Homo sapiens: one gene and its partner. The protein of the gene in region 1 purifies or fractionates together with the protein of each later gene. This does not show direct contact. Each region holds a gene or a part of one and is shown on either strand. Other genes may lie near its edges.

The links.
Region 2: the proteins of CCDC158 (region 1) and SCGB2A1 purify together in Homo sapiens (affinity purification with mass spectrometry; 3 studies listed by BioGRID and IntAct, with this or other methods). This does not show direct contact.

Annotation. Positions count from the first base shown.
Region 1 is NC_000004.12:76,407,190-76,423,163, reverse strand, and holds the start of CCDC158 (coiled-coil domain-containing protein 158), read left to right. Parts: upstream 1-2,022; 5' UTR 2,023-2,199; exon of another isoform or gene 2,200-2,989; intron 2,990-8,799; exon of another isoform or gene 8,800-8,903; intron 8,904-11,031; 5' UTR 11,032-11,074; intron 11,075-15,847; exon of another isoform or gene 15,848-15,942; intron 15,943-15,974.
Region 2 is NC_000011.10:62,199,087-62,215,544, reverse strand, and holds SCGB2A1 (mammaglobin-B precursor), read right to left. Parts: upstream 6,873-16,458; 5' UTR 6,814-6,872; coding exon 6,759-6,813; intron 5,133-6,758; coding exon 4,945-5,132; intron 1,820-4,944; coding exon 1,775-1,819; 3' UTR 1,602-1,774; downstream 1-1,601. UniProt on the Homo sapiens protein: May bind androgens and other steroids, may also bind estramustine, a chemotherapeutic agent used for prostate cancer. May be under transcriptional regulation of steroid hormones.

The DNA of each region.
Region 1 (15,974 bases):
CGGGGTGGCGGCCGGGCAGAGGCAGCACTCTCCGCACTTTGGGAGGCCAAGGCAGGCGGCTGGGAGGTGGAGGTTGTAGCGAGCCGAGATCACGCCACTGCACTCCAGCCTGGGCACCATTGAGCACTGAGTGAACCAGACACCGTCTGCAATCCCGGCACCTCCGGAGGCCGAGGCTGGCGGATCACTCGCGGTTAGGAGCTGGAGACCAGCCCGGCCAGCACAGCGAAACCCCGTCTCCACCAGAAAAATACGAAAACCAGTCAGGCGTGGCGGCGCGCGCCTGCAATGGCAGGCACTCCGCAGGCTGAGGCAGGAGAATCAGGCAGGGAGGTTGCAGAGAGCCGACATGGCAGCAGTACAGTCCAGCTTCGGCTGGGCATCAGAGGGAGACCGTGGAAAGAGAGGGAGAGGGAGACCTTGGAGAGGGAAAAGGAGGGGGAGGGGGAGGGGGAGAGGGAGAGGGAGAGGGCCCCAGCTTTATTGTCACAACCTACACATAGCATGTTGTAGGTGCCCTATAAATATGGATGGAATGAATGAATGAATGGAAAAGGACTTTGGATCCCTTTCTTGATCTTTTAATTCTTTATTTAAAAAGCTAAGAAGCTGTTTTTAATACAATATTTAAAAAATGTTGTAAAACCGCAGGACACTTCAAAATGTGATGAATTTTATAGTAAAATCAGGGGCACATAACTTTTCGTACATATATGTGGGTGTAGATAATTTCATGCTACACTAATTAACACACCTTTTAATTAAAGACGTTGAAAAGAAAAAAACCTTTTTGTGTGTGTCCAGGGTACAAGCACAAAATGAGACACCAATGGAAACCATGTATTAGGTATGGAAAATTTTTATGTCATTGAACACTCATGTTTTGATAGAAAAAAGAAAAAATTAGAAATTGCTTTTTGTCCAACCACAAGACCTAAATTATTTACCTTTCTATGTAATACTTATGGTTTCACTTCCTGTTAAAAATGCTCGATTCTATAGCTAATCCTAGATCTCTATAAGCCAATAAATGGATTAACTACAAAGATATGATAAACAATCTTTAATGGCATTTAATCTATTTTTATTAAAATTTGTAGCTACATTATTTAATGTAAGACTTACTAATATTTCTAATCAACTTATACATAAAAAGTTATTTGCTGTAGGTGTCTGCACAATGTGATTGCTAGCAGAATTAAATGCCTCAGGCTGCATCTATCAGACACTGGCCTTTCTGGATGCGTTCCATTTGATCGATAATTTGGGCAGCAAAATCTGATAAATTCTATATTAGAGATAATGACAGAGGGTAACTGTAGCACAGCGGAGGGAACAAGTCTCCAGAGGCAGAAGGGTCAGCTATGCCGAGAACACGTTTGAACTTGAACATTCGGGGACAGAGAAAACAGAGCTGCAAAATGTGAATTCTGTTAACTTGAAATGGTCAAATGGGAATGCCAGGAGTGGGAATGGGAGGGGGGGGTGAGGTGGGGCCGGGTGGGGGTGTCAGAGTAGGAGGCCCGGCGGGCAACTCCAGATTGGGCTTGACTCTTTGGCAGGTAAGAGCTCAGACTGGTGCGGGTCAGTGAGTTATCTGGGAAGACCACGGTGGGGACAGCTACGAGAGTGGCCCGAGGCGCTCGGGTGGGGGCAAGAGTAGGGCCGGAGACCAGTTAGGAGGCTGTGGGAGAAGCGGCAGAGGGCGCCGGGTGCAGGTCCGAACCCAGGGTAGTTTCTGGGGCAGGGCTCCAGGATTTGACTCCGGGCTGGGTACACCCCCACTCCTTAGGGCGCCCGGGCGGTGGTGGGGACTTCGACGCTCGGATGCCCCAGCGACGGCGTCCGGCGGGCGGAGTCGCAGGCGCGGGAGGGGTCCCCGCCGGGCAGCTGCCGAGCACCCCCCTCCTCCCCTCCCCCAACTACGAAGCCTCGCAGAGCGTCCTAACCGTCACCCACGCGGCTCGCGCGGACTGGGCAGCGCCCCGAGCGCCACAGCCGCGAGGAGTGACGGGCGCGGGCAGCTTCCGGCGCCGCAGCCGAGGAGGAGGAGCCGCCCCGCAGCCTCCGCGGGGCCTAGGGGCGAAGAGTGGGGAGCCGCCCCGTCCCAGCCGCCAGGTCGACGTAGGTGGGGCCGCTGCGCCCGCCGGCGCCCCGCGGAGATGTGGCCGGTGTCTTAGGATTAGGTGTTGGTTGCAGGTACAAGCGGGGCGCGGCCCGGGAGACGAGGATGGTGGGGTGGGAGTGGGGTTCTTCTGAGGACCCGGAGCGACTCGTGTTCATTTCTGGAATCTTCCGGTGCCTCGTGTTTGTTCTGCACATGGAAGATGCCCAATAAATTGTTTCTTTACTGGAATGAGCTGCTGTTGTTTTAGGGGATTGCAAGACCCCTGGGGACGGTGGCGCTGAAACCTGGACCTTGAAGAACACAGGGGCCTGCGCAAACTGATTTGATTTGTGGGGAAGAGAATCACCGAGTAACCTGCCCCAACGTGACTGCTGACTCTGTGTCTACCGCGCTGCCGCGAACAGGGGGAGGAGATGGGGAAGACTTGGTGGTAGAGAGGACAGCCTCGCATCCAAGACGGAATGGTGTTAAATGCCGGCGCAAGGGCCCTTTCAGCTTGAGCCCTGTCTTTAAACCACATGTGGGGGTCAGAGCTTTCCCTCATTATCAGCATCAATCAGCAACACAATGAGTTCTGGAAAGTCTCCATCCTTTTCCACAGCACTCTGCTCCAGGCCCCACTCAGGCTGCTCCAGGTTTTGTTTGTGCCTCATGCTGAACTCCAACGTCAGGGGAAAGTAGAAGTGAGGTCGGCTGTTGCCCAGGTTTTTTGACTGGCAACCAGTTCTTGCTGCTTCTCTCAGCAGGAGATTAAGGCGTTGTGGCCGGGTATGGCGGGGGCGTGTGGGGAAAGGACCAGGGCTTCCACATATCCCAGAGACATGCTAGGTAGGACTGTTTCTCTGTGCGGAAGCTCATCAGGTAAGGGTGCAGGAGTGCTGAGAGAGATGTGGTCCTCCTATCTCTGTACTGCGCTCATTGCTTTTAATCTTAGTGCGGTTATCTTACTTGTGTTGTGGGTGAAATGGTTTCCATGCCATAGAGTTAATATTATACTCCCAAAACAAATTGAGGACAGCAATTTATTTGTATGTATGCAAAGCCCTTACTGTTGTTGTGCATTTACAATGAGGACTTAGTTTTATCTAGTATGTTATGAGTGAGCCACTTTAGACCTCCACCATTTATTAAACAGGGCCTCTTGTGATCCACCCGTCCCCCAGCTAGATGGCCCCAAATTATATGGTAGGCTGAGCAGTGGCCACTCAAATATGTCAGGTCCTAATCCCTGAAACCTGTAAATGTTACCTTATAAGGGAAAAGTGCCTTTGCATACGTGATTAAGTAGCTTGAAATGGAGAGATTATCGTGAATTATCTAGGTGGGTCCTAAATGCAAACGCAAAGGTCCTAAGAGAGAGAGAGAAGCAGATTTGATATAGGCCGAAGAGAAGGCAATGTGACCACAGAGGCAGATATTGGAGTGATGTGGCCACAAGTCACCAAATGCCTGGCAACCAGCAGAGCTAGAAGAGGCAAGGAACTGATTCTCTTGCAGAGCCTCCAGAGGGAGGGAGGGAGCCCTGCCAACACCATGCTTTCTTCCCCATGAGACTGATTTTGGATTCCTGGCCTCCAGAATTATGAAAGAATAAGTTGCTATTGTTTTAAGCTACCGAGTTTTGATAATTTGTTATGGAAACTGTAGGGAACTAATACATATGAGCGTGCTCATAAATCACATACATGCTGTACTGATGAATAGTTTACAGGTCTTCAGCTGGGGCAATAGTGGGGTACAGTAGTGGAGATCACTGTATATTTATCTGAATCCTGTAAATCCTAAAGAAAGGATTTGAATAGGGAATTTGGTAAGAAAAGAAATTTAAGTGGTGCATATGAAGGAGGTAGTCTGGCATTTAAAGCAATTTTTTAAGAGTATTCCTATTAATATATCACTATTTGCTCTGGCTAAAAAGAATAAAGGTAAAAAGTGGCAAAGGCTTTGTCCTTACCTTAGCTGAATCATTATTGATTATCCATTGTGTGTATATCAAGTAAGAGTTGCAGACACCTGGGGATTGAGGTCCAGGCCTGGGGAAAAGAGGGAATGCAGAAGTGCTTCCATGTATTAAAATATGGCTAAAAGCAACCGCTAGTCATCTGGAATTAAGATACTTTGGAGTTTTCAGGATACAGGAAAATTCAGTGTTCAAGTTTAATGATTCACTTCTGGGACCCAGGCAGCTAATTTACACTTCCCACTTTCCTTGATATGGTTTGGCTGTATCCCCACCCAAATCTCATCTTGGATTGTAGCTCCCACAATTCCCGTGTGTTGCGGGAGGGACCCAGTGGAAGGTAATTGAATCATGGGGGCAGGTCTTTCCTGTGCTGTTCTCGTGATAGTGAATAAGCCTCACAAGATCTGATGGTTTTATAAAGGGGAGCTCCCCCTGCACAAGCTCTCTCTTGCCTGCCGCCACATAAGACTTCCCTTGCTCTTCCTCCATGATCGTGAGGCCTCCCCAGCCATGTGAAACTGTGAGTCCATTAAACCTCTTTTTTCTTTATAAATTACCCAGTCTTGGGAATGTCTTTATCAGCAGCATGAAAACAGACTAATACACTCCCCACATCTGCTTTCTTTTCAAACTGCTTTATAAGGTATAATTTACATACCATAAAATTCACCTGTTTTAAGTGGACAGTCCAGTGATTTTTAATAAACTTACTGAATTGTACAATCAGCACACAATTCAGTTTTAGAACATTTTCATCATCCAAAAATGATGCCTTGTACCCTTCTGTAGTCAATCCCCATTCCCAACCCCAGCACCATCTGCTTTTAATGACTGGCCTACTTCAGAGTTGGGTTTTAGTCCCTTTGTTGGACTGCTCCAATGGCTTTATAGCTAGCCCCAGCTTCTCCTAGTGTATTCTCTACTCAGCCGCTGGAGGATCATATGCCCTTGATTAAAATCCTCCAGTGCTTTGCGTTGCGTTTAGAATAAGCCCCAAAGTCTTCAGTATGTGGCCTTTTCAAGGCCCCATGAGCTTTACCTCCGCCAACCTCACTGACATCTTCTCAGGATAGTGTAGGAAAGGAAGTGATAAGCACAGTGTTCCTTTTGGCATGACACATAGTTGGCCTCCATTAGAAGCCCTCTCATCCCCACTTAGCTACCCTGCAGCCTCATTAGCCTTCTTCACTGGGAGTCAGTGAACACTGAGCTCTTCTCATTTTTGGGCCTTTGTGATGGCATTTCTTTTAAGAAGTTATCCCTGGCCACTGTGAGGCTGACCCCTTTCTGTCATTCAGTTCAATGCCACCTCCTTAGGAAGGCCTTCCCTCACCTACCCTAACTAGAGGAGCTGTGTTAGTCTGTTTTCATGCTGCTAAGACATACCCGAGAGTGGGAAGAAAAAGAGGTTTAATTGGACTTACAGTTCCACATGGCTGGGAAGGCCTCAGAATCATGGTGGGAGGCAAAAGGCACTTCTTACATGGCGGCAGCAAGAGAAAATTACCTCCCCCTGGGTCGCTCCCATGACACATGGGAATTCTGGGATATACAGTTCAAGTTGAGATTTGGGTGGGGACACAGGCAAACCATATCATTCCACCTGTGGCCCCTCCAAATCTCATGTCCTTACATTTCAAAACCAATCATGCCTTACCAGTAGTCCCCCAAAGTCTTAACTCATTTCAGCATTAATGCAAAAGTCTTCAGTCCAAAGTCTCATCTGAGACGAGCCAAGTCCCTTCTGGCTATGAGCCTGTAAAATCAAAAACAAGCTAGTTACTTCCTAGATACAATGAGGGTACAGGTATTGGGTACATATAGCCATTCTAAATAGGAGAAATTGGCCAAAACAAAGGAGTTACAGGGCCCATGCAAATCCAAAATCCAGCAGGGCAGTCAAATTTTAAAGCTACAAAATGATCTCCTTTGACTCCATGTCTCACATCAAGGTCACGCTGATGCGAGAGATGGGTTCCCATGGTCTTGGGCAGCTCCAACCCCTGTGGCTTTGCAGGGTACAGCCTCTCTCCCAGATGCTTTCATGGGCTGGTGTTGAGTGTCTGCAGCTTTTCAGGTGCACAGTGCAAGGTGTTGGTGGATCTACCATTCTGGGGTCTGGAGGATGGTGGCCCTCTTCTTAACAACTCCATTAGGCAGTGCCCAGTAGGGACTCTGTGTGGGGGTTCCAACCCCACATTTCCCTTCAGCACTGAGCTAGCAGAGGTTCTCCATAACGGTCCCATCCCTACAGCAAACTTTTGCCTGGGCATCCAGGCGTTTCCATACATCTGACATCTAGGCAGAGGTTCCCAAACCTCAATTCTTGAGGCCTGTGCACCTTCAGGCTTAACACCACATGGAAGCTGCCAAGGCTTGGAGTTTCCAGTCTCTGAAGCCACAGCCTGAGCTGCACATTGGCCCCTTTCAGCCATGACTGGAGCAGCTGGGACACAGGGCACGAAGTCCCTAGGCTGCACACAGCACAGGGACCCTGGGCTCAGCCCACAAAACCACTTTTTTCTCCTGGGCCTCTGGGCCTGTGTTGGGGTGGGCTGCCATGAAGGTCTCTGACATGGCCTGGAGACATTTTCCCATGGTCTTGGGGATTAACATTAGACTCTGTAGAGTCCAGCCCCACAGGGTCAGTGGGTTTTCTCCCCGTGTGCGGAGATGAGAGAGTGTAGAAATAAAGAGACAAGACAAAGAGATAAAAGACAGCTGGGCCTGGGGGACCACTACAACCAAGACGCGGAGACCGGTAGTGGCCCCAAATGCCAGGCTGTGCTGATATTTATTGGATACAAGAAAAGGGGCAGGGTAAGGAGTGTGAGCCATCTCCAATGATAGGTAAGGTCACATGGGTCCCATGTCCACTGGACAGGGGGCCGTTCCCTGCCTGGCAGCTGAGGCAGAGAGAGAGAGGAGAGAGAGAGAGACAGCTTACACCATTATTTCTGCTTATCAGAGACTTCTAGTACTTTCACTAATTTGCTACTGCTATCTAAAAGGCAGAGCCAGGTGAACAGGATGGAAGATGAAGGCGGACTAGGAGCATGACCACTGAAGGACAGCATCACAGGGAGACGGTTAGGCCTCTGGATAACTGCAGGCGGGCCTGTCAGGCCCTCCACAAGAGGTGGAGGAGTAGAGTCTTCTCTAAACTCCCCCGGGGAAATTGAGACTCCCTTTCCCGGTCTGCTAAGTAGCGGGTATTTTTCCTTGACACTGACGCTACCACTAGACCACAGTCCACTTGAAAATGGGCGTCTTCCCAGACACTGGCATTACCGTTAGACCAAGGAGCCCTTTGGTGGCCCTGTCCGGGCATAACAGAAGGCTTGCACTCATCTTCTGGTCACTTCTCACTATGTCCCCTCAGCTCCTATCTCTGTATGGCCTGGTTTTTCCTAGGTTATGATTGTAGAGTGAGGATTATTATAATATTGGAATAAAGAATAATTGCTACAAGCTAATGATTAATGATATTCATATATAATCATATCTAAGATCTATATCTAGTATAACTATTCTTATTATTTTGTATATTTTATTATACTGGAACAGCTCATGCCCTCGGTCTCTTGCCTCGGCACCTGGATGGCTTGCCGCCCACAGACTCCTTGCTACTTATGCAAATTTCTGCAGCCGGCTTGAATTTCTCCCCAGAAAATGGATTTTCCTTTTCTATCACATAGTCAGGCTGCAAATTTTCCAAACTTTTATGCTCTGCTTCCCTTATAAAACTGAATGGCTTTAACAGTACCCGGGTCACCTCTCTAATGGTTTGCTGCTTAGAAATTTATCCTGCCAGATACCCTAAATCATCTCTCTCAAGATCAAAGTTCCACAGATCTTTAGAGAAGGGGCAAAATGCTACCAGACTCTTTGCTAAAGCATAGCAAGAGTTTACTATGCTTAAAGTTCTTACATAGCAAGAACTTTACTCTAGTTCCCAACAAGTTCCTCATCTCCATCTGACCACCTCAGCCTGGACCTTATTGTCCATATTGTTATTGGCACCTTGGGCAAAGCCATTCAACAATTCTCTAGGAAGTTCACATTTTCCTGTCTTCATCTGAGCCCTCCAAACTGTTCCAACCTCTGCCTGTTACCCAGTTGCAAAGTCGCGTCCACATTTTCTGGTATCTTTTCAGCAATGCCCCACACTACTGGTACCAATTTACTGTATTAGTCTGTTTTCACGCTGCTGTTAAAGACATACTGAGAAGAAGAAAAAGAGGTTTAATTGGACTTACAGTTCCACACGGCTGGGGAGGTTTCAGAATCATGAAGGAGGCAAAAGGCACTTCTTACTTGGCAGCAGCAAGAGAAAATGAAGAAGCAAAAGCGGAAAACCCTTACAACCCCATCGGATCTCATAAAACTTATTCACTATCACAAGAATAGCACGGGAAAGACCGGCCTCCATGATTCAATTACCTCATCCTGGGTCCCTCCCACACACGTGGGAATTCTGGGAGATACTGTTCAAGTTGAGATTTGGGTGGGGACACAGCCAAACCATATCAGGAGTCTCAACTCCATCTCTCTTTATACCACTGTTCTTTGTTATTTTCTTTATTGTACTTGACAACTCTCCAAAATTATATTTGTGATTTTTTTCCCCTTAATGCCTTTCTTTCCCCATTGGAATATAAATTCATGAGGGTGGAAACTTGATTGGTCTTGATTTTAAACTTAACAGAATATGGTGATTAATTGGATATGGAATTTGAATTGATGAAGATACTTGAAACACCCAAGAAAGAAGGTTTAGTGAGGAGATGAAAAGAGCAGATTTGGGATAAGGTGAATTTAATACGACTGTAAACATATATGCAGAAATGTTAAAGGAAAAAAACTTAGCTGGGAATGGTGGCTTATCCCTGTCCTAGCACTTTGGGAGGCTGGGACAGACAGATCCCTGGAGTTCAGGAGTTCAAGACCAGCCTGCGCAACATGGCAAAACCCCGTCTCTACTAAAAATACAAAAATTAGCCAGGCATGGTGGTGTGCAGCTGTAGTCCCAGCTACTTGGGGGACTGAGGTGGAAGGATCACTTGAGCCACCACTGCACAGCCACCTGGGTGACAAAGTGAGACCCTGTCTCAAAAAAAAGAAAGAAAGAAAAAAGAAAAGTAAAAACTTTATTCTAATTTATCTAGAGCCAAACATTTTTAACAAAATAGCATGAAACTTGCTGGAAGCAGTTTAGAATTGTTCCTATCTGGCTTTGCTGTTGACTGATATCATCTGTGAGAAGTCATCATATTTTAGGTCAGGTTTTTGTTGGATGTTTTCCATGGGAAATCATAGAATGTCCAAACTGGAGAAGATTTTAGAGATTTTTCTAGTCCAACACTCTACCCAAGAAAGAATACCAGTGGCAGTTGCCATTTCAACAAGTGCTCACCCATTCTTATCTTCAACACCTCTCAAGGAAGCCCTCCACATATATATTCAGGGTGCTCTAGTCTTTAGAAAATCCATCTCCACCTTGAACTAAACTCTGTCTCTCTTTACTTCCATTCATTAGTCTGAATTCTGCACATAGAATATATTCATTTTTTTCTTTTCCTTTTTTTTTTTTTTTTTGAGACAAGGTCTCACTCTGTTGCCCAAGCTGGAGTGCAGTGGTGTGATCACGGCTCACTGCAGCCTCAACCTCCTGGGCTGAGGTTATACTCCCACCTCGGCCTCCTGAGGAGCTGGGACTACAGGTATGGACCACCATACCCAGCTAATTTTTAAAATTTTTTGTAGAGACGGGATCTCACTATATTGTCCAGGCTGGTCTCAAACTCCTGAGCTCAAGCAATTATCCCTCCTTGGCCTCCCAAAGTGCTGGGATTACAGGCTCATTCATTTTTTTAAATGTGGAAAAACTGCTTACATTCCACCGAGATATTCCAAAAATCTTGGTGGTTTATCATTTCGGTATACCTGCTTACAATATATAGATAGACCTGTTTTGACTCACCAGACAGAAGTTTCTCTACCCAATTACTTCTCTAACCAAGCACAAGTGATGTTGCCTGGTCAAGAGCATTTCCAAACAGTGAAGAGCAGTTAAAATGGTCAGAAGATATTTAGCTGGTCTATTTAAGTCAGTTTGGACTGTACCTGGAGAAAGGCCAGGTCTGAGAATATTGATATTAGGTCATATGTGCCTGTAGGTTTACTTGCTACATTATCTTGATAGTGCCAATGAGATCTGTGCCACTAAAATTAAAATTGGGCCAATAGCATATAATTAAACACATTTTGTTGTAAAAACATGATTTAGATAAGTGCTATAGGCTATTTTTTTCTTTTCTTTGAGATGGAGTCTCGTTCTGTCACCCAGGCTGGAGTGTAGTGGCACAATCTCGGCTCACTGCAATATCTGCCTCCCATGTCAAGCAATTCTCCTGCCTCAGCCTCCCAAGTAGCTGGGATTACAGGCACATGCCACCATGGCCAGCTAATTTTTGTATTTTTAGTAGAGACGGGGTTTCCCCATGTTGGTCTTGAATTCCTGGCCTCAAGTGATGCGCCCACCTCAGCTTCCCAAAATACTGGGATAACAGTCATGAGCCACCATGCCCGGCCACTATAGGCTATTTTTAAAAAAATTTTTTGTAGAGGCAAGGTCTTACTATGTGGCCTAGGCTGATCTCAAACTCCTGGCCTCAAGCAGTCTTCCTTCCTCAGCCTCCCAAAGTGTTGGGATTACAGGTATTAGCCACCATGCCTGGCCTGCTCTAGGCTCTTAAAATGTACTTTCACATAAAAGGAAAAAATAACACTTCTTGTTGCCATTGTTATATGTGTGTTTTACATATTGTCAAGGTCTTAAGTGATGAACATGAATTTGTAAATTGAACTTTTGAAATAATAAATTTCAGTTAATGAAATATATATAAATGAACAGATTTTAAATATTTTGTTTTTTCAGATATTAATAGAATAAGTGAAAATAAGAATATCCAGAAGTTAAGGTAACTTTTATTTTACTTGTAGTTATATTTAAGAATTGTGAACATATACAACTGATAATACTATTTTATCTGTATCTATATCTGATTTATTTTAGAAAACCTGAAGCCTTGAATTTGATGGATGCCTAGGCCAGAATATAAATATATCGTAGGCCTACAATATAAAAGCTGCAAGAGCTTTATCTTTGTGGTTTTCAGACTATGTTCAGTGGGGCCCTCTGTGTTCCATAGAGGTGTCTCTGGGGCAGAGAGGAGGGTGTGTGGCGCTTAGATTTAAAGAAACATTTCCACTGCTTAAGAAGGGTTTGAAAAACACAACTGTAATTTCATTTAGTAAGGATGGAAATTGAGACTCAGAGATATGAAAAGGTCTGCCCATGCTCTCACAGTTAACCAATGACAGAATTAAGTTTCCTGATTCTAAGTTCTGTGCATCTTCCATATTGCCTCCCTGCTAGATGGTATTATGTATGGGTGAAATGCGATCGTAAGTAGCTTAATTCCGTATTACATTATAATAGTCCCTGTGTTTAGTCAATGCAGATTAAACCCACTTTCTTTTGTTAGTGGGCCTATATGAAACTCAATATTGCTCTTTATTATGGGAAAATGAGTTAGTTTACATACACTGCTTAAGTTATAAAGATAGTATTGGGATTTTGGGGTGCTTTTTTTGGTTTTTGTTTTTTTGAGATGGAGTCTTGCTCTGTCACCCAGGCTGGAGTGCAGTGGTGATCATGGCTGATTACAGCCTTGAACTCTTGGGCTCAAGGGATCCTCCCACCTCACCCTTCCACGTAGCTGGGACTACAGGCAAGTACCACCATGCCCGGCTAATTTTTTCATTTTTTGTAAAGACAGAGTCTCACTCTGTTGACCAGGCTGGTCTCTAAATCCTGGGCTCAAGTGATCCGCCCACCTTTGCTTCCCAAAGTGTTGAGATTACAGGCGTGAGCCACTGTGCCCTGCCAGATAGTATTGTTATTCATGTTATTGCTGTCCAATTATCTGGTACCTTGTATGTGTTGAGGCAGTTACTATGTAGGAAGGCCGCAGTTACTATGTAGGAAGGCCTGCACGTGAGTTATCTCAGTTAACTCTTATTCTTTTGAGGTATACACTCTTTTACCTTTTAAGCTGTATACTTTTTATCTCCCTCGTATAGTCATAGAGAGGTTAAATATTGTTCTCAAGGTGGCACAGCTAGTAGATCACAGAGCTAGGATTACAACATCCAGAGACTTGAAAGAGTGTGATTGAGAAAACAGACACTGAGAGCATGTGAAGTTAATAAGCAGCTAACAGCAATTCAGGTAGTACAATACTGTTCAACATGAATGGTTCTCCTTATTGTGTTTCTGAGATTGTACCAGCCCAGTATGTTTCTTTGAATCAGTCCCGAGGTACCTCAGAATTTCCCAAGGAAAACATACCTGCAGACTGGTTCTAGAAGAATGTAGATCAGTTCTGTAAGATCCCCAGTCTCAGGTTTCTGTGGAAGGTAGGGTGGTTCATCAACCTAGGAGCTTGAGTCAGTTGAAGAATCCAGGAATCTAAATAGAACATACATCATAAGTCATCTGTACGCAATCAAAATAGAACTTGGGCCAGGCCTGGTGGTTCACGCCTGTAATCCCAGCACTTTGGGAGGCTGAGGTGGGTGGATCACTTGAGGCCAGGAGTTCAAGACCAGCCTGGCCAACATGGTGAAACCCCATCTCTACTAAAAATACAAAAATTAGTTGGGCAAGGTGCCACATGCCTGTAATCCCAGCTACTCAGGAGGCTGAGGTGGGAGGATTGCTTGAACATGGGAGGTGGAGGTTGCAGTGAGCCAAGATTGTGCCACTGCACTCCAGCCTGGACGACAGAGCAAGACTCTGTCTCAAAACAAAAAAAAGGGATTCTAAATCAGTTATTCATTCTATGATAGTCACAGGAGAGGTCCACCTTAAGTAGTAGCCATACAAAAAGAAATCAAGGTGAGGATTATTCATACTAGGAAAAGTATAAGTGCACATCCACCAGGGCCTTTCGACTCCAAGGAGCAGGAGTCAGAACCCAGGAGGTACTTTTAAACGCTTTATCTCAGCTATATAACAAAGCCTAAGGCTTTAGGGAATTTTCCTCCAAAAGTTCCCTCTTTGTGGTCTGTGGTTTCTTAGACCTTTTTTTTTTTGGCAACATTCCAATCAAATAACTAGAGTAGAATAGATACACAGATATTACTTTTTATTTTTATTTTTATTTATTTATTTTTTGAGACAGTCTCGCTCTGTCACCCAGGCTGGAGTGCAGTGGCGTGATCTCCGCTCACTGCAAGCTCCACCTCCCGGGTTCACGCCATTCTCCTGCCTCAGCCTCCCGAATAGCTGGGAATACAGGCGCCCGCCACCACACCTGGCTAATTTTTTGTATTTTTAGTAGAGACGAGGTTTCACCATGTTAGCCAGGATGGTCTCTATCTCCTGACCGCATGATCCGCCTGCCTCAGCCTCCCACAGTGCTGGGATTACAGGTGTAAGCCACTGCTCCCGGCCTAGATACTACTTTTTAAAAATGTAAGGCTCCTTTTAATGTGAACCTGTTCATAATTTTAAATCAGGCAGAACTGTTCATAATAGACCTTCGGCATGTCAGAAGAGGCCAAGATCTCACCTCTGTATTTTACTCAGAGATTTAAAATAAACACATGTAAGTTCATGTTATGATCCCCAATTCAACCAAGTGCAGAGTTTTTTTTTTAACAATTTTATGATTTATTGAAGCAAAAAACCTTGCTTTTTCTAGAAATCTTTAATCATTTCATAAGCTTTATGCCTGAAAATAGGAAAAATATTTCAATTCCTATAGTGTCACAAAAGTAGAGAAACACTGATGACTTGACCAAATTCAGGATATATGGTCAGTCTAAAATAGTGAAAATGAATTACAAATATTATTTAAATGCAGATTTTCATTACTCTAAAATACACACACAAAATAACTACCAGCATTGGCAACAGAGATACTAAGCATCCTCTTTACAAATAAACAGTTGTTTTAAAATTCTTGTTGAAACCCCATCAAAAAGTGGGCAAAGGATATGAACAGACACTTCTCAAAAGAAGACATTTATGCAGCCAAAAGACACGTGAAAAAATGCTCATCATCACTGGCCGTCAGAAATGCAAATCAAAACCACAATGAGATACCATCTCACACCAGTTAGAATGGCGATCATTAAAAAGTCAGGAAACAACAGGTGCTGGAGAGGATGTGGAGAAATAGGAACACTTTTACACTGTTGGTGGGACTGTAAACTAGTTCAGCCATTGTGGAAGACAATGTGGCAATTCCTCAGAGATCTAGATCTAGAAATACCATTTGACCCAGCCATCCCATTACTGGGTATATATGCAAAGGATTATAAATCATGCGGCTATAAAGACACATGAACACGTGTTTTTATTGCGGCACTATTCACAATAGCAAAGACTTGGAACCAACCCAAATGTCCAACAATGATAGACTGGATTAAGAAAATGTGGCACATATACGCCATGGAATACTGTGCAGCCATAAAAAATGATGAGTTCATGCCCTTTGTAGGGACGTGGATGAAGCTGGAAACCATCATTCTCAGCAAACTATCACAAGGACAAAAAACCAAACACCGCATGTTCTCACTCATAGGTGGGAATTGAACAATGAGAACACATGAACACAGGAAGGGGAACATCACACACCAGGGCCTGTTGTGGGGTGGGGGGAGCGGGGAGGGATAGCATTAGGAGATATACCTAATGTAAATGACAAGTTAATGGGTGCAGCTCACCAACATAGCACATGTGTACATATGTAACAAACCTGCACGTTGTGCACATGTACCCTAGAACTTAAAGTATAATAAAAAAATATATATATATATACATATATGTATATAAAGAAGTGAAACTCCTGACTACTCTGGGCACACTGCTTATGGGGTAGCCCTGCTGCACAAGGAGCAGTAAAAAATAATAATAATAAAATTTTTTAATTAAAAATTTAAAAAAACAACTCTTGTTTAAGTGAATAAACCTATGCTGTCTTCTGTAAACTACTAATTTTCTAAGAAAAAAATTCCCCTTTGAAGGACTGCTGCTTTCCAACAGCCTGTTATGAATAACACAAGCATTCATAGTGAGTTATGATGAATAACGCAAGCATTCATCATCTTACGTCGAAGTAGACAAGTGTGGTTTCCACATCAGAATATTCTAAAGCCAAACCTTCCTCTTTCTTCTTTTCTCTACTCTCTAACTCCTATTTTCAATTCTGCTTACCTTGATCTTAGATTCTGTTTCCTGCTTAATACTAAAGTCTTTGATAGTGAATTACTATATGATTTGCCAGTATTTGGTTGTGGTTCTATATCTGTCCTACTCATTCCTTTATGCTTCTGATTGATCTCTAATTCATGATAACATTACTCAGCAATTTGAACTTTCTTAGTGTCATTCATTATCCTGAAGAATCCCAAAATGTATCATGTTAGTGTATCAGTAAAGTTATACAACAAACATTCACAATGAAACTCGTTTAAATGAGAAGGCATCCTTCTTGTACACAGCATAGAGTCGTTTTTTATAAGCCAATTTGAAAATCCTTTTCTTTCAATAGGCAAGGTTTTTTTTTCCTCAAGTAGCAGTCTCTTCTATTTAGAACATTTAAATTGCCTAGCAATCTTGACTAACATTCTATTTGTTATAATTCTTTATGGAATATCTCCCTACCTACTACTTACTTCCTAAAAAACGATAGCACGAAGCATATTAAGGTAGATATGTTCTATCGTTAATTGTAGTTTTGACAGGTGGCATCTCAGTAATCAAAAGGAAGAAAATGTGAGTGAAATAAAAATGAATTCCGTTTAATA
Region 2 (16,458 bases), on another chromosome or scaffold:
GTCTTTTTAGGGAAGGATACATGGGCTGAGAAGAAATAGGCTACATGGGCTGAGAAGAAATAGGCTCATGGGATGATGATTCCCAGGAATCTGGATTGTAAGGAGGAGGAATAATGTGAGCAAGGGAGGGATCTGGGGCAGGATCTGGGACAGAAGGGCTGTCTGAGGGGAAGGGTTAAGAGCATTCAGCAGGGGAAGATGGTCTAGGGGATCCCATGTGCTGGAGTCTTTAGGCATGAGAACTGGCTTTTCTGACTCTTTATTTTGGGGTTTTTGATTGAGTTTTTTCCTAATTGTCTTTCAGGGAAAAAGGAGAATAGGTCTCTGTCTCTAAAAAAGAATATAGTCCAGCTCTTCTTGAGAAACTAGATTTTTGTCATTTACATATTGAATTACAAGTTGACACATCACATCCTTATTTGACCTAAACTTTGGCCAGAAGATTGAGGGTTTGAGGATAGGTCTCTGAGTCCAAATAAAACAGCAATATTTTATCATCTGTTGCATGGCTTTTGTAGGTCACAGGTATTACATTGCCTTCATAGGCCACTTCTTCATAAGAACATTTTAAACATACTTTACAACTGTATTGGTAAGACGAAGTATAGAATTCAGGCTAGATTCATTGGTATATGTTCATTAATATTACAATCACTTCAGGAAATTATTCTTTAAATTATAACATTTTCATACACCCCTATGTATATTGTGGGCCTGGATCCCTGCCCTTGCCTTGCCTGATGGAAGAGTCGGCCCTGGTGAAGCTGAGTTGTCCAGACACATAGACAGGGTCTTCCTGGGTGAGGGGATAGCCCCAGAAGGAAAAGGGACAGGCAATAACCTAACCCTGGTGACAGGAGTGCTGGGGACAGGACACGATGGAGACCCCGGTTCCATTTAAACATCCCCTTCTGTGCTGGGTCCCTGCATAGCACACTCACTCCCCTCAACCCTCATTGCCTTTGCAGCTCACTGTGGGGCAGGGGAGGATGGACCCACTGGCAGAGACTGGACTGAGAAAAGTTGCACAATTTAAGGTGTCGCTATGCTAGCAAACTCAGTCATCAGGGTAAGTAATATTTTCATGCAATATTTTAAAAGTTCAAAATTAATGCCAACATCCATGAACGACAAATAAAACTCAAAATTTAAAATCCAGACAGGATCCACCTTGCTTTGCAGGCCTCCCCTCCCTGGCTGGCTCTGGTCTGGGCCCTGCACACGTTGGGGAGGCCCAAAGACAACCCAGAGGAGCCTGGCATAACCAGCAGGGCTCAGCATGGATGGGACTGGGGTAAAATCAGGGCTTCTGAGCATGACTCCAAGAGTGTGAGGTCCCCAGAGAAAGTGGCTTAGGGAGGTAGTGGGATGTGGAGAGTGAAACACTCTTCAGAGAAAAATTAGCTAAGCAACAAGAGCTAATACTTTGTTCTGCAGAGAGAGAGAAGTCCAACTCTTGGGCTCGAGATGATGAGAAATAAAGTATTTCCCAGAAACCTCGGACCCTCACTCAACTCCTTCGAGGCTTGTCTCTGTCTGCAACCTACAGCCTGACTGTGCAGCCTGGAAAGCTTCTTTTTTTATAGAAGAACAAGAAAGAATTTTAGTGATTTGCAGTTAGTTTATTGAAATGGAAATGAATTTGAGGTTTCAACAGTTGTCTAGCAGTTTCCACATAAAAAGACAACACAAGAAAGAAAAGTGGTTTCTAGCAATCAACAGATGAGTTCTGGCCATAGTCTGTAGCCCTCTGAGCCAAACGCCTTGGGTAAAGTTAATTACTCTTCATATTACACCAAATGCTGTCGTACACTGTATGCTGGAAAACAAAAGCAGGTCACTTAGGTTTGCAAATTTCACTTATTAAATCAAATATTAAAACTTGTCTTCTTGTTTTCTTGCATTTGTCCACAAACAGCTAACTCTCAGGAGGATTTGCAGTGGAAGCAAAGCCAGCATCCCCTCTCCATTTATTCTGTTATCTAGGAGACACTTCATAATGCCAAACAGGGGCCAGGGTTGTAGGATCTCTTCCCTACCAGTGATCCATGTAATACTTTTTTTCTCCAAAAATTCTATCCTTTGAAATAACTTATCCAATAAATATGCTGCATATACTATTTGTTGAAGACCTGATCATTTGGACTGTTTCTGATACCACTTTTACAACACAGAATTATTAAAAAATCTCAGCTCAGATACAAGAATGTGATGGTTTTGAGTTGCTGCACAGGCATAAAAGGTAGAAATGTTGTAACAGTCTGAGACTCTTCACCATTACCTTTGAGGCCTATGAAATATTGGAGCTGGGCTGGGTGGGATGGCTCATGCCTGTAATCCCAGCACTTTGGGAAGCCAAGGAGGGCAGATTGCTTGACCCCAGGAGTTTAAACCAGCCTGGACAATATGACAAAATGCCATCTCTACAAAAAAAAAAATATATATATATATATGTGTATATATGTGTATATATGTATATATGTGTATATATGTGTATATATGTATATATGTGTGTATATATGTATATATGTGCATATATGTGTACATATATGCATGTATATGTGCACATATATGTGTACATATGTGTACATATGTGTGTACATATGTGTGTATATATGTGTGTGTGTATATATATGTATATATATGCCAGGTGTGTTAGTGTGCACCTGTAGTCGCAGCTACTCAGGAGGCTGAAGCGGGAGGATCACTTGAGCCCAGGAGATGGAGGCTGCAGTGAGCTGTGATTGTACCACTGCATTCCAGCCTGGGCAAAAGAGCAAGACTCTGTCTCAAAAACAAAAACAAAGACAAAAAAACGGAAACAAGAAACACTGGAGTTTTACAATATGAATGATTAATCTGAGGGGTTTTTTTGGTTTGTTTAGGATTTTTGTTTGTTTGTTTGTTTTTGAGATGGAGTCTTACTCTGTTGCCCAGGCTGGAGTGCGGTGGCACTATCTTGGCTCACTGCAATCTCTGCCTCCTGGCTTCAAGTAATTCTTCTGCCTCAGCCACCCAAGCAGCTGGAATTACAGGTGTGCGCCACCACGCCTAGCTAATTTTTGTATTTTTAGTAGAGACAGGGTTTCAGCATGTTGGCCAGGCTGGTCTTGAACTCCTGACCTCAAGTGATCTGCCCGCCTTGGCCTCCTAAAGTGCTGGGATTACAGGTATGAGGGATGCACCTGGCTAATCTGAGTTTTTAAAGAAAAAAATGATTCAACCATCCCAAATTGCAGTTAATATTTATTTTTATCCTTGAGCATTTGATATATCTTTACATTTTTTATTATGGAATGTTTTAAATAAAATTTTAGGGTATTAAATAAATTCTTAAAAAAAAAATGTAATCCCAGCACTTTGGGAGGCTGAAGCGGGCAGATCACCTGAGGTCAGGAGTTTGAGACCAGCCTGGCCAACATGGTGAAACCCCATCTCTACTTAAAATACAAAAATTAGCAGGCTGTGGTGTTGTGTGCCAGTAATTCCAGCTACTCCGAAGACTGAGGCAGGAGAATCACTTGAACTCAGGAGCCGGAGATTGTAGTGAGCCGAGATCGTGCCATTGCACTCCAGCCTGAGCAACAAGAGCTAAACTCCATCTCGAAAAAAACGAAAAACAAAAAACAAAACTCGTAACCAACACATCTTTATAAACAGACAGAAATACTCCTTGTTATAACCACTGACTTTTGTTTTAAACAATTCTAGCACTCGTGCTGTTTCATACCCATAATCTGCACTTCCCACTTCATGAGGCACTTAATTAAGTGGTGCATGACTTCCAGTCATGTATGCTAACAAATCTTGGTTGCTTGGACTTGCATTTTAAATTCTTTATTTTAGGCCGGGAGCAGTGGCTCACACCTGTAATCCCAGCACTTTGGGAGGCCGAGGCGGGCAGATCACCTGAGGTCAGGAGTTCAAGACCAGCCTGGCCAACATGGTAAAATCTCATCTCTACTAAAAATACAAAAATTAGCTGGGCATGGTGGTACATGCCTGTAGTCCCAGCTACCTGAGAGTCTGAGGCACAAGAATTGCTTGATCCCAGGAGGCAGAGGTTGCAGTGAACGAAGATCATGCCACTGCACTCCAGCCTGGGCAACAGAGTGAAACTCCATCTCAAAAAAATTTTTTTCTTTATTTTAGAAAATGCAGAATTTGCACAAATTGTATTTTCTGAGCTAGATAAAAAAAAATAAGAATGTTTTGAATATTTGTTTTTGTGAAAGTAGGAAATTTCTTAGTAGATTGCTCCTACAAGTGTGTGATCTCTTGAGAACCAGATATTTTCTCTTGATAAAAATGTGCATGTTCTGGCTGGGTGCGGGGGCTCAGACCTGTAATCTCAGAACTCTGGGAGGCCAAGGGAGGCAGATCACTTGAGGTTAGGAGTTTGAGACCAGCCTGGCCAACATGGTGAAACTCCTTCTCTAGTTAAAATACAAAAATTAGCCCGGCGTGGTGGCGCACACCTGTAATCCCAACTACTCGGGAGGTGGAGGCAGGCAAATCTCTTGAACCCGGGAGGTGGAGGTTGCAGTGAGCCGAGATTCACGCCACTACACTCCAGCCTGAGTGACAGAGCGAAACTCCGTCTCAAAAAAAAAAAAAAAAATGCCGATGCCTGTCCCCGTGTGTCTGTGTGTGTCTATACTTGTGTGCTTATGTGTGTCTGTGTCTGTGTGAGAAGGGACTGGTGAGGTCAGAGGTAGACGGGTGATCTCTAAGGCTTTCTTTTCTCCTTTTTGCCTTTTCCATTTATCACTCCCTAAAGATTCTCAATGTGAAGTGGCAAAGCAGCCTGGAGACAAAGTTTAATGAATTGATATATAAAGAAAGTTTGTTCACCAGTTGCTTGGCATTCTTGGTGCCAAATTTAGAGCCCGCTGGTTCTGATCAGTGATTTTCAAAGGGTACATAAGAAGAAACCCAAATTACCATCATCAGTCCAAAGTTTTTCAGAGTTCTATGTGACTGGTTGAGGAAACACTGCTTGAATTTCCCCATAGCCTCTGCAGCGGCATCACTGTCTATGAACTCTTGAAGAAGCTCTTTGTATTCAGGTATAGATATGTCGGAATTGATGGTCTTTTCAACCATGTCCTCCAGGAGTTTGCAGCCAGAATCTGGAAAAAAAAAAAAAAAAAAAAAAGACACAAGAACATGGGCCATTACTAGAGGTGTGATTCATTCTACAGATGAATTGGGAAGCTGGCTATCTTCGTACCTCCAGGGACAGACCGAGGTTCAGAAAGATTTTGGTGCAGTATGCAGAGTTCTCAATTCTGGGAGTGTAAACTCAGGCTCTGCAAATTCTCTCTGACCTTCCAAACCCAGAGAAGCCCAACCCTGTGTATTCTTGGTGAAGAGGACCCTCGAGAAATGAGGTGTTCTGACTGGGGGGACATAGCAAACACTACTTGGACTTTCTTGGTTCAAAGTCATGCAATGCTTCCCTGTTATCATGCCCAGCATCAGGTAGGGTTTCCAAGGATTTCAGATGAATGGGTCTAGGACATTGTCCATTAGTTCTGTTGACTCTACTGCAATAAAAGGGAATGTGTGGCCAGGTATGGTGGCTCACGCCTGTAATCCCAGCACTTAGGGAGGCCAAGGCAGGCGAATTGCTTGAGCTCAGGAGTTTAAGACCAGCCTGGACAACACAGGGAGACCTCATCTCTACAAAAAATTTAAAAATTAGCCAGGCATAGTGGTGTCCACCTGTAGTCCCAGCTACTCGGGAGGCTGAGGCAGGAGCATTACTTGAGCCTTCGAGGAAGAGGTTGCAGTGAGCTGAGACTGTGCCATTGCACACCAGTCCCAGTCCCAGCCTGGGTGACAGAGCAAGACCCTGTCTCAAACACACACACACACACACACACACACACACACACACACACACATGAATGTGAAATAGAGCTTGTTCATGAGGGGATCTGAGGTCACCTCCCACTGTAAGGGAGAGGAACGAGCTCAGGACGTGGCTTCATGTGAGCTGGTTGTGCTCTGGACTTTGTGATTTTCCAGTTAGTTGACTGTGAGCTTGTCACCCTTCTACACATCTGCACCTACCTTGGATGCCAATACGGTAGGGTTTGGAATCCACCTTTGTGAACTGCACAAGGCAGGCTACCTATGGAAATATTAGCGCTGATTCCAGCAGCCGGGGCTTTTTCCTCCCACTGAATCTTTAGTGCTGGAAGGAGACTCCAGGGGTTGTGAGTTCTCACCTGTCTGCCTTGAGCCTGAAGCAACTGGGAGGGTAAGGGCATCCCAGAAGGACCCAGATCAACTCTGAGAACACAGAGTGAGCCACACAGGGTGAGAGACACTGGGTCACACTCTGCAGCCTGGGCCTTCTGTCCTGGGAGGTTTCCTATTTCGTTCCATATTCAAGGAGACCCATGATTATTTCCTGATTTCTAGGTGTAGATGCCATCTCTCCCTTGCCCCACTGAAATAGTTCATTTCAATATTTAATCCTGAGACTCATCCTGGTTTCTATGGTCACCGTGACCATGGTGAGACGCTGAGTGCCATGATACACTGTGTGCAGCTCCAATGCAGGGGACAGCCCATGAGGACACTGCATGCTTGATTGTCAGGAACTCATGGGGATCCTAAGGCCTATCGCACCCAGGCCCTTCACACTGGGGCTCGTCTGTGCTGGGGATTAGAGGTTGGGAGTTCTTCTACAGGGGCCCAGGTGACAATTCCTAGCCCAGAAGCAGCCCTCTCTGCCCAGAACTCACCTGCATAGCAGTGCAGGAGGAGGGCCGCCAGCATGAGGACCATCAGCAGCTTCATGGCGAGGCGGCTGCTGTCTGTGTTCAGTCGTGCGTGGCAGGGATCAAGGAAGTTGCTGTGGAGGTGAGTACCCAGCCCTGCTCTATTTATTCCCCAGGGAGGCACCTTAGTCCCTCCCAGGAATGAGGCAATGTGTCAACCTGGCATGGGACCAGGACACAATAGTGTACACCAATGGGAACACAGCCAGCCTGTGCTCTGTTTGTAGAAACCAAGAAGGCAGTAATATTTGGATCCCTGACAATCTGGGGACTACAATAATGATACATGGCTTTTAGTAAAATGGATGTGACAGTGTTTTCCAAAATATAAAGCAAAACCCAGTGGCGTGATCTTGTGGTCTCAACAATGTTGTTATTATTGTAGTTTTCTTCTAGTCCTCCTTCCCTTCTTCCTCCTCCTCCTTCTATTCTTTTTCTTCTATTCCTCTTGGTCTCCTCCTCTTCTCGTTATTCTTCAAGGTACAAACAGTTTCATAACTTGTGTATCTGCCGGTCCTGGAATCATCAAATATTTGGGCTATGTGCAATACCTGCATCTTCCTATGGGAGGCAGACCTTCCTAATCCATAGACATTTCTTTTTCAGAAAAGCGGGTTTTTTTGTTTTTGTTTTTTGGGGTTTTGTTGCTGTTGTTGTTGTTGTTTTGAGACAGAGTCTCACTCTATTGCCCAGGCTGGAGTGCAGTGGTGCGATCTTGGCTCACTGCAGCCTCCGCCTCCCGGGTTCCAGAAATTCTCCTGCCTCAGCCTCCTGGGTAGCTGGGATTACAGGCATGCGCCAGGACACCTGGCTAATTTTTGTATTTTTAGTAGAGACAGGGTTTCACCATTTTGGCCAGGCTGGTCTCGAACTTCTGACCTCAGGAGATCCACCTCACTCAGCCTCCCAAAGTGCTGGGATTACAGGCGTGAGCCACCATGCCCAGCCCCGAAAAGTGCTTTAAGTTTTGGGGAAAACATTAATATCTAACCTCTACTGAAAGCTTCTTGTTATTCTTGTTAAGAATTACAACACTAAGTTAATTCAACTTTACAAATTTATTTTACAATATATTTATAATTTAATTTGTGCTTAGTTCTTTGTTAGCCTTTTACGGTTTTCTATCCACTGACTGAGAGGATGCTGTGAGTGAGTGGAGTAACTGACTGCTTGGGCAGGCAGTGCTAGGCAGTGGGTGGCAATGGGGTTGGGTGATGATGAGATTTAGGTGATAAGATTTGGGCAGGTGTGGGTGTGGATCCTGGAGGCCACACGTACTCATGCTGTGTCTTTGGGCAAATTACAATGCTGGTCCCTCTGGGCTTCCTTTCTGTCTTTGTGAAACGGGTATAAGTGATGCTGAATTTTTTTTTTTTTCGAGACAGAGTCTTGCCCTGTTGCCCAGGCTGGAGTTCAGTGGCACGATCTTGGCTCACTGCAACCTCCGCCTCCCGAGTTCAAGCGATTCTCCTGCCTCAACCTTCTGAGTAGCTGGGATTACAGGCATGTGGCACGAGGCCCGGCTAATTTTCGTATTTTTAGTAGAGACGGAGTTTCTCCATGTTGGCCAGGCTGGTCTCGAACTCCTGACCTCAGGTGATCCACCCACCTCGGCCTCCCAAAGTGCTGAGATTACAGGTGTGAGCCACCGTGCCCGCCTGGCCGTGAATTTTTGTAAAGATGAGAGATACTCTGTAAATTTTTTTTTTTGAGATGGAGTCTCACTCTTATTGCCCAGGCTGGAGTGCAGTGGCGTGATCTCAACTCACTGCAACCTCAGCCTTCCCGGGTTCAAGCGATTATCCTGCCTCAGTCTCCTGAGTAGCTGGGATTACAGGTGTGCACCACCACGCCCAGCTAATTTTTATTTATTTATTTATTTATTTATTTATTTATTTATTTATTTATTTTGTATTTTTAGTAGAGATGGGGGTTTCACCATGTTGGCCAGGCTGGTCTCAAACTCCTGACCTCGTGATCCACCCACCTTGGCCTCCCAAAGTGCTGGGATTATAGGTTTGAGCCACCGCTCCCGGCCGACGCTCTGTAAATTTTTAATCACGCAGCCAAGCATGAGATAATTCTGAATAAATGGCAGTTGCATTCATGCGTGGATCCCTTGTTGTACGCATCACTGTTTTGCTTCTCCTGTGAGCTGGGCCTTGCACTAGATTCAGTTATAGAAACAGGTTAGACCAGGTGCTTGCTCCTGTGGACCTTATTTTCTAATGAAGGACACAAAGAACAAGACTAAAGATATATCAGAGGTATGAGAAAGTGGTCATTGCTGCAAAGAACAACAAAATATTCACAACAGCTGAATGCTGTCATAGATGGCCTGCCCAGGGGCAGTGGCCTGTAAGCCCCCCAAGGCAGCCTGTAGGAGCAGGTGCTGTTTCAGCTGAGACTTGGATGAGTGGATGGTGATGTCCAAGGACACATCTGGGGAAGAGAATTCCAGGGAGAGGGAACTGCAAGTACAGAAGCTTGAGGACAGATGGCACTGGCAAGGTAAGGAAGGGAAGGAACGTGGCCACATAGAATCAGGAAAAGGACGGGACAGCCTCACATGATAGAAAGCCCATCCCTGTTTAATTAGGGGCACAGTGAAGGTCATAGGAACAAGAAAAACAAAGTTGGCTCAGGTAAAAAAAGAAAAAAGAAAAAAAAAGAAGTCGATGAAACAGCCAGAGGAATGAATCCATTGTTAATTCCCTGTGAATGCATTGTTTTCTCTCTGGATTACTTGCGACATGTTTCTTTCCACCATTCAGGTGGAGCCTCAGTGGCCAAGAACAAACCTAATTTTGGGGAGGACAGAAAGGAGAAGTGTTGTTTACTTACCACTGTACACAGCTGACCCTGGCTGGTGGCCTTGTTTCCCAAGGGTAGTGAAGGACCTTGATTATGAAATGTGAGAGTGTCTCCTTGGCCAGTACTTATTGGGGCTCTGCCTGGTGCCCCAGTCCTTGTGGCCCTGCCTTGTCAGTCACCTTCTTACACAGAACAGAACTTCAGGAAAGGCCTCTGGTCTTGGAGCCATCTTTGTTGGCAGCAATATGCCTGTTGTTCAAGTCACCAAGGCCTCGTCTAGACCCAGCGCCTCCCTCGCGCCCGAGCCTCATGCTGGGATTCCAAGTCTGAGTTGCTCAGTGTTCAATCCACCCCAGCACCCCCATATTCCAGCTCAGTGTCCCAAAATGTGTCAGAAGCTTGCAAAGACTGACCTCCCCCTGCGTAGGGGTGAATACATCTGGTGACACGGGGTTGGGATTGAGTGAAGGGAACAGGGTGAATCCTCTAAAGAGACCACAAGCATCAGAAACGCTTTCTGGCCTCTCCTTTCTGAAATGGGGCTGAGGAAAGGAGAGGCTGTAGCTTCCATGGGGAGTCTACAGCAACCAAGGAAGAACCCCCTTCCCCTTACACACACACCCAAGATGCACGTGACGGTGGTGCGTTTTTCATACTCACTCAATTGTCAGAAGAGACCTGTGACCCTCTGTACCTCTGAGAGGCCTGGGGAGACACACACAGGAGACTATAAGCCCGGACGGGAAAGGAGAGGTGCAGAGAGAGATGGATGAAGGGCTCTGGAAGGCCAAAGGAGGGAAAGGGTGCTTTCCCTTAAGTGGGAGAAACGTCCTCTGGCTCAGAGGTTGAGGGGAGGCTGTGGGTAGGGAGAGGTAGGTTAAAGATGGATAAATTCAGAAGATGCCGGAGGTGACTCCCAGAGGAGTCAGATGATTGAAAAGTAAGGAAAGGATAAAATCCCTTATTCCATGGGGCAGTCCCATCCCAGCTGGACATTCCCAAGACTCCCAGGAAGGATCTGGGAAGGGAGGGCCTGAGAAGCTGCAGCTCTGCTGAGCGCCGCTGTGTTGCACTGCTGGGTCCCATCTCTGCAGGTTCTGCAGCCCTTTCTCGTAAGGGTTGGATGGCAGGTGGGTGGTGAGTGAGGACTCGGAGCCTGACCACCACTTGTGTTCACATCACAGCTCCTCCGTTTGCTGACTGCCACATTGGACAGGAGACTTAATGCTGTGTGTTCCCTTTAAAATGGGAACAGTCATAGAATTGCTGTGATTCACAAGTAAAAAGTGGAAAGTCCTGAGAACAGTGCTTGGCACAAAGCAGGTGCTATCCAGATGTCAGCTGGTAGCCATTATTTTTGAATAATAAAAAAATGTATTTATGGTAAACTCCAAGGACCACTAGGACTGTTCGACACTACTGAAACTCGGCTTCCACATAATATTCTCTAAAATATTTGAGTAACTATTCAGATATAAGCTAAAACTTTTAAGTTTGAAAACAAAGTTCTGTGTTTTGATCCATGTGTATTTGATTTTTTTTCAGCGTTCCCCTTTCCTCAGAGGTTTTTTGGTTTTATGATTTTTTTTTTTTTTTGGAACAGGGTCTTGCTCTGTCGCCCCAGCTGGAGTGCAGTGGTGCCATCTTGGCTCACTGCACCCTCTGCCTCCTGAGTTCAAGCGATCCTCCTGCCTCAGCCTTTCCAGTAGCCGAGATTACAGGCGCACACCACCACGCCCAGCTATATTTTTGTATTTTTGGTAGAGACAGAGTTTCGCCATGTTGCTCAGGCTGGTCTCGAACTCCTGGGGTCAAGTGATCCGCCCACCTTGGCCTCCCAAAGTGCTGGGATTATAGGCATGAACTACCACGACTAGCCTCAGAGTTTTATTGAAATAATTTACAAATAACTTATCACCCAAGCATCTTCTACTTAGTATTACCATATTAATCTTCCCAGAAACCAGTTCCAATTTATTGAACATGTTTACATACATTTTTTAATTTTTTACCCAGCTTTACTAAGGTAAATTGACAAATAAAAATTATATTTATTTATGGTTTATATGTTTTGATGTATATATGCATTCTGAAATGATTAATTCAAGCTAATTAACACACCATCATCTCACACACTTGTTTTTTTTGTGATAAGAACATTTAAGATCTCATTGTTTAGCAACTTTCAGGAAATGTTCAATAAAATATGAATGAAAAACAATTCTACACCAGTTCCTAAATGACGGGCACTGTTGTAAGCCCCTTTGAATCTCACAGCCATCATCCTATGAGCAGGGTGACCATGCTATTGATTGTAAATGAGGGGCACTTTGGAGAATAAAAGGGAACCCTAAATGGGTGGGATGCCAGGATAACAATGTAAACCAGGCCTGTCCTGAGCAAACTGGATGTGTGATCACCACCCTGTGAAGTGGGCAGATCATTTCACCCCAGCTACAGGAGAAAGGACACAGAGATTCCATAGAACTTTTTGGGACACAGCTGGGAAGTGGCAGAAACAGGATATGAAGCCAGGTGTTCTGCCTCCACAAGCTGCTGTCAACACTATTTCCCTCCTTGGCTGGACACTGAGAAGCCTGCACACCATGGTTCAGGTGGATCCTGGTGACCTTGACACCCACTGCTGCCCTGTGGGAACTCCGTGTGGATTTCTGCACAAGACCCGCAGTTTTCTGCTTGAGAAATTATTGAAATAATTTACGTTTACTTTGCAATTTTACCTTACAGTAATTGAACAATTTTACTCTGCTCCCTGTGGTCTCCACTGCCTTGCCTTAGTCACTCTGGGTTGAAACGCTTCATTCATTCTGGAAGCCACATCAAAGCAGCTCACACCTTGTGTTCTTTGCTGGCCCCTCCAACTCCCTGGATCTCCCCTTTCCCAGGGACCTGTGGCTCTCCGTGGGCAGCTCCGACCTGACATCCCCTGGAGCTGACCTGTCCTCTCTGTTCATGCTCCTGGAGAACATGGCCTCTCTGCATGTCCTGCTTCTGTATGACAACATCATACAATAAGTGCTTAATCAATAATTTTGTAATTTATTTTCTGGGCCAAAATTTGGTGCTTTACAAGAGTTCACTGATGATATCTCTCATGTTTTAGTACAAGGTCTATCTAAAAAGAGGCACTCATTGACATTTGAATCTTTAGTAAAGGCAGGGATTACACACAACACTAACCACACATCTGGGTGACATCCTGGGCACTAACACTAATGTTGTACTTTCTTGGATGAGGGCTTTGGGGTCAGGGTGGGAGGAGACAGGCAAGGGAAGGAGGTAGTTGGAGGCTGTGCCAGCTTGGGGTGGGGCCACCTCAGTGTTCCTTTTTTTTTGAGACAGAGTCTCACTCTGTCACCCAGGCTGGAGTTCAGTGGCTCAATCTCCATCTCAGCTCACTGCAACCTCCGCCTCCTGGATTCAAGCGATTCTCATGCCTCAGCCAAGTAGCTGGGAATACAGGTGTGCACCACCACGGCCAGCTAATTTTTGTATTCTTAGTAGAGATGGGGTTTTGCCATGTTGGTCAGTCTGGTCTTGAACTCCTGACCTCAAGTGATCCACCCACCTCGGCCTCCCAAACTGCTGGGATTACAGGCATGAGCCACCACGCCAGCCCAGTGATCTGTTTCTCAAAAAATGACGATTACCACGATATGATCTGACCTGGATTCATCTAATGAGTTGGGAGATGGAGCTGGATTAGGAAGCAGAGCCGAGGTCAGGTGTCAGCCCCTGGCTAATTCTCCTTGGCTCCTTAACCAAAACTATGAACTTTACTTAACTTGACATTTCCCTATAATGTGTGGTGAAAAGCTTAATCCTGTACCCATGTAACAACTGATTTGGTTCATTAGATATTTACACTAACATCTTCTCCATTAAGTTCATGACTTTTTTTTCTTTTCAATGCCCCATTCGTTTTTCTGGTAACTGTGGTGATCCCAAAGTTGTGAATGCCTGCCTTAGGGCCATTGCAAGAGTCACATAGGAGAACCGACATAAAGTTTTCCACTGTAGAGCAGCGATTGTCAACTAGGGCACACCTACTCCCATCTCCTCCCTATTCCCAAAGACATCAGTCTGGACAGTTTTGGGTGTCACAGCTGGATGGTGGTAGGGTACTATCAGCACCCAGGGGACAGAGGCCAGGGGTACTGCTGAACCTCCTACAATGCAAAGGACAGATCCCACAGAAAAAGGATTACTTACCTTTGATGTCAGTACTGCCAAGTGCTAGAGAAATACCTGCACACATTTGCTCTTGTGATGAATGACCAGTAGCATTCGTGAGCCTCATACTCAGCAAACAGGGAGTGTAGCCCCAGCCTGGCAAGGTGCCAGCAGGAATGTGGGCATCTTTGTCCTCCAGGTGGCTGAGTCAGCCTCATGTCCATGCCTTTGCCCAGGCTGCTCCATGCACCTGGAGGCCCTGCTTCCCCTGCCTGTCATCCTCGTCTTCTAGGTGCTTCATGGTCCAACTCAGCCATCACCTCTTCCACAAGCTTTCCTTTCTATATCCTTGGATTTCTATAGGTTTTTAATTTGCATAATAAGATCTCATCTCAGTGATATACATTGTAACTTTCTTCAGTTCTATATCGTGTCTTCCCATTCAACTTGCTGATTAATTCCTTAAGGAAATTTATGAATCCTTTCAACAAAATGTATCACCCTCCCCCATTTGGTGTGGTGTCGATTCTGCATTGACCTGAGACCTTCTTTCTCTACAGAAGGATTTCCATGTTCCAAATAATCTTTTATTACTGTTCTCTTGATTTATCCACTAACTCCTATTTTCATCACTGTTTACCGAGTCCCATGTCTTTCTCTTTCTTGTTGTACTTGTTTTTGCTGGGGTCTGTCCTCCAGTACCTTTTGGAGAAGAAGTTTATTGGGCATAAAATGTTTGAGGATCTTTATTTTATCTTTGTGTTTGAATGAGTAGGCTGATTACAGATTCATATTTGTATAGAATTAGAGGTTGACAATCCTCTGATTTTTTAGTATTTATCCTCCATCCACCAGTTCTTGTGTTGGTTCCATTATTATTCCCCATCACTGTATGTGCCTCACTGTTTCTTTCTGGGAAAGAAAGACCTTTTCTTAAAGACAATGTTCCAGAATGTTAGCAAAATATTTTTTGGTATGGAAAACAGATGGATGTCTATGGATTTTTCAATACTGTATTTTTTTCTGGGAAATTTTTTGGTATTATTTCCTTGGTGACTTTTTTTTTCTGAGACAGAGTCTTGCTCTGTCATCCCGACTAGAGTGCAGTGGCATGATCTCGGTCCACTGCAACTTCTGCCCCCTGGGCTCAAGTGATCCTCCCACTTCAGCCTCCCCAGTAGCTGGGACTACAGACACGTGCCATCATACCCAGCTAATTTTTGTAGAGATGGGCTTTCACTATGTTGCCCAGGCTGGTCTCAAACTCCTGGGCTCAAGTGGTCTGCCTGCCTTGGCCTCCCAAAGTGCTGGGATTACAAGCATGAGCCACCACAACTGGCCTCTTCGGTGACTTTCTTTCCACCATGATCTCTGTCATTCTGGAATTCTTTCAGTTGGACATAATGGATTCATCCTCCAACCTTCTTTTCTTTTCTCTCATATTTTTTATTGCTTTATCTTTTCCACCACATACATACTGCTTTTCATGACACTATTTTAATTTTTTCTTTCAATTCTATTAATTATTCCAGCTATCATGTTTTAATTTCTCTAAAGTTCTTTGTTGTTGTCTGAATACTTGTTAAACCATAAAACGAAGGAGAGATCTTACTAATCTGGACTTTATAAAGCACTCATGAAACTTACCCATGACATAAAACATCTGTCAGACCCAGAGAAACTGAATGAATTACAAAATAGTGTGTAAATTAAGAACTTTATTTCCTTTTCTCTTCTCTTTTTCTAGCCCCTAAGCTGTTAGAAAACAGCTGAGAGAAAAAAAGTGAAAGAATAAGGATAGAAAGGAAAACACATATTTTTTAACAATGTGAAGCTTAGATTATTATACAGACTTGAATATTCCGATTTCTGAATTGAAATGTTGAGCTTTATTTCATAAAAAAATGGAGATTCATTGAAGGTTCACTTTAATGAAGCTTATGACAAAATGAGAGCTTTGTGTTCAGAATATTGAGCTTGTCATAAAGTGTCAGATGGATCACAGGAAGAAGACATTTGAGGAAAAGAGCCTAGGCAGAGATTGATAATATTTGTGCAGGAGGCAAATTATGAGACTTTACTTAGCTTGGAGGTTATGGGAGAGGCTTTAAGGGATAAAGTCAACAGACCCTGCATGAGTGAATTCTATGTCCCTGGCAAACCTCAATCTCAGCTTTTTGAATGAGAGTTTCTTAAAAATTAGCAATATCTTCAACAAAGAAGACATCCAGCAGGTGAATCAATGAGAGCATGGACACCTAGAGAAGTGCTGACTTTGGAATGCTGACAGGTCCAGGGGGTAAAACACAGGCCTAGCTCCCTTTTGCAGGTATCTTCCTGCTGCCCCTCAGGCAATGGCAGCCCTTGCAGTATTTTTTTGTATTGTGGTAAAATAAGCAAAAAATGTTCATTTCAGCTATTTTTAAGTGTACAGTTCAGCAGCCTTAGGAGCATTTATGATGCCTTTGAAATATTCATTTTCATTGTCGTTATCCCAAACAGAAACTCTGTACCCCTTAAACAATGACTCTCGATACCCTCCCTCCCTGCCCCAGCCTGAGCAGTCTTGCTGGATCTCACTTCACACTCTTTTGTTTTTTGTGATTGTTATTGTTGTTGTTGAGACGGAGTCTCGCTCTGTCGCCAGGCTGGAGTG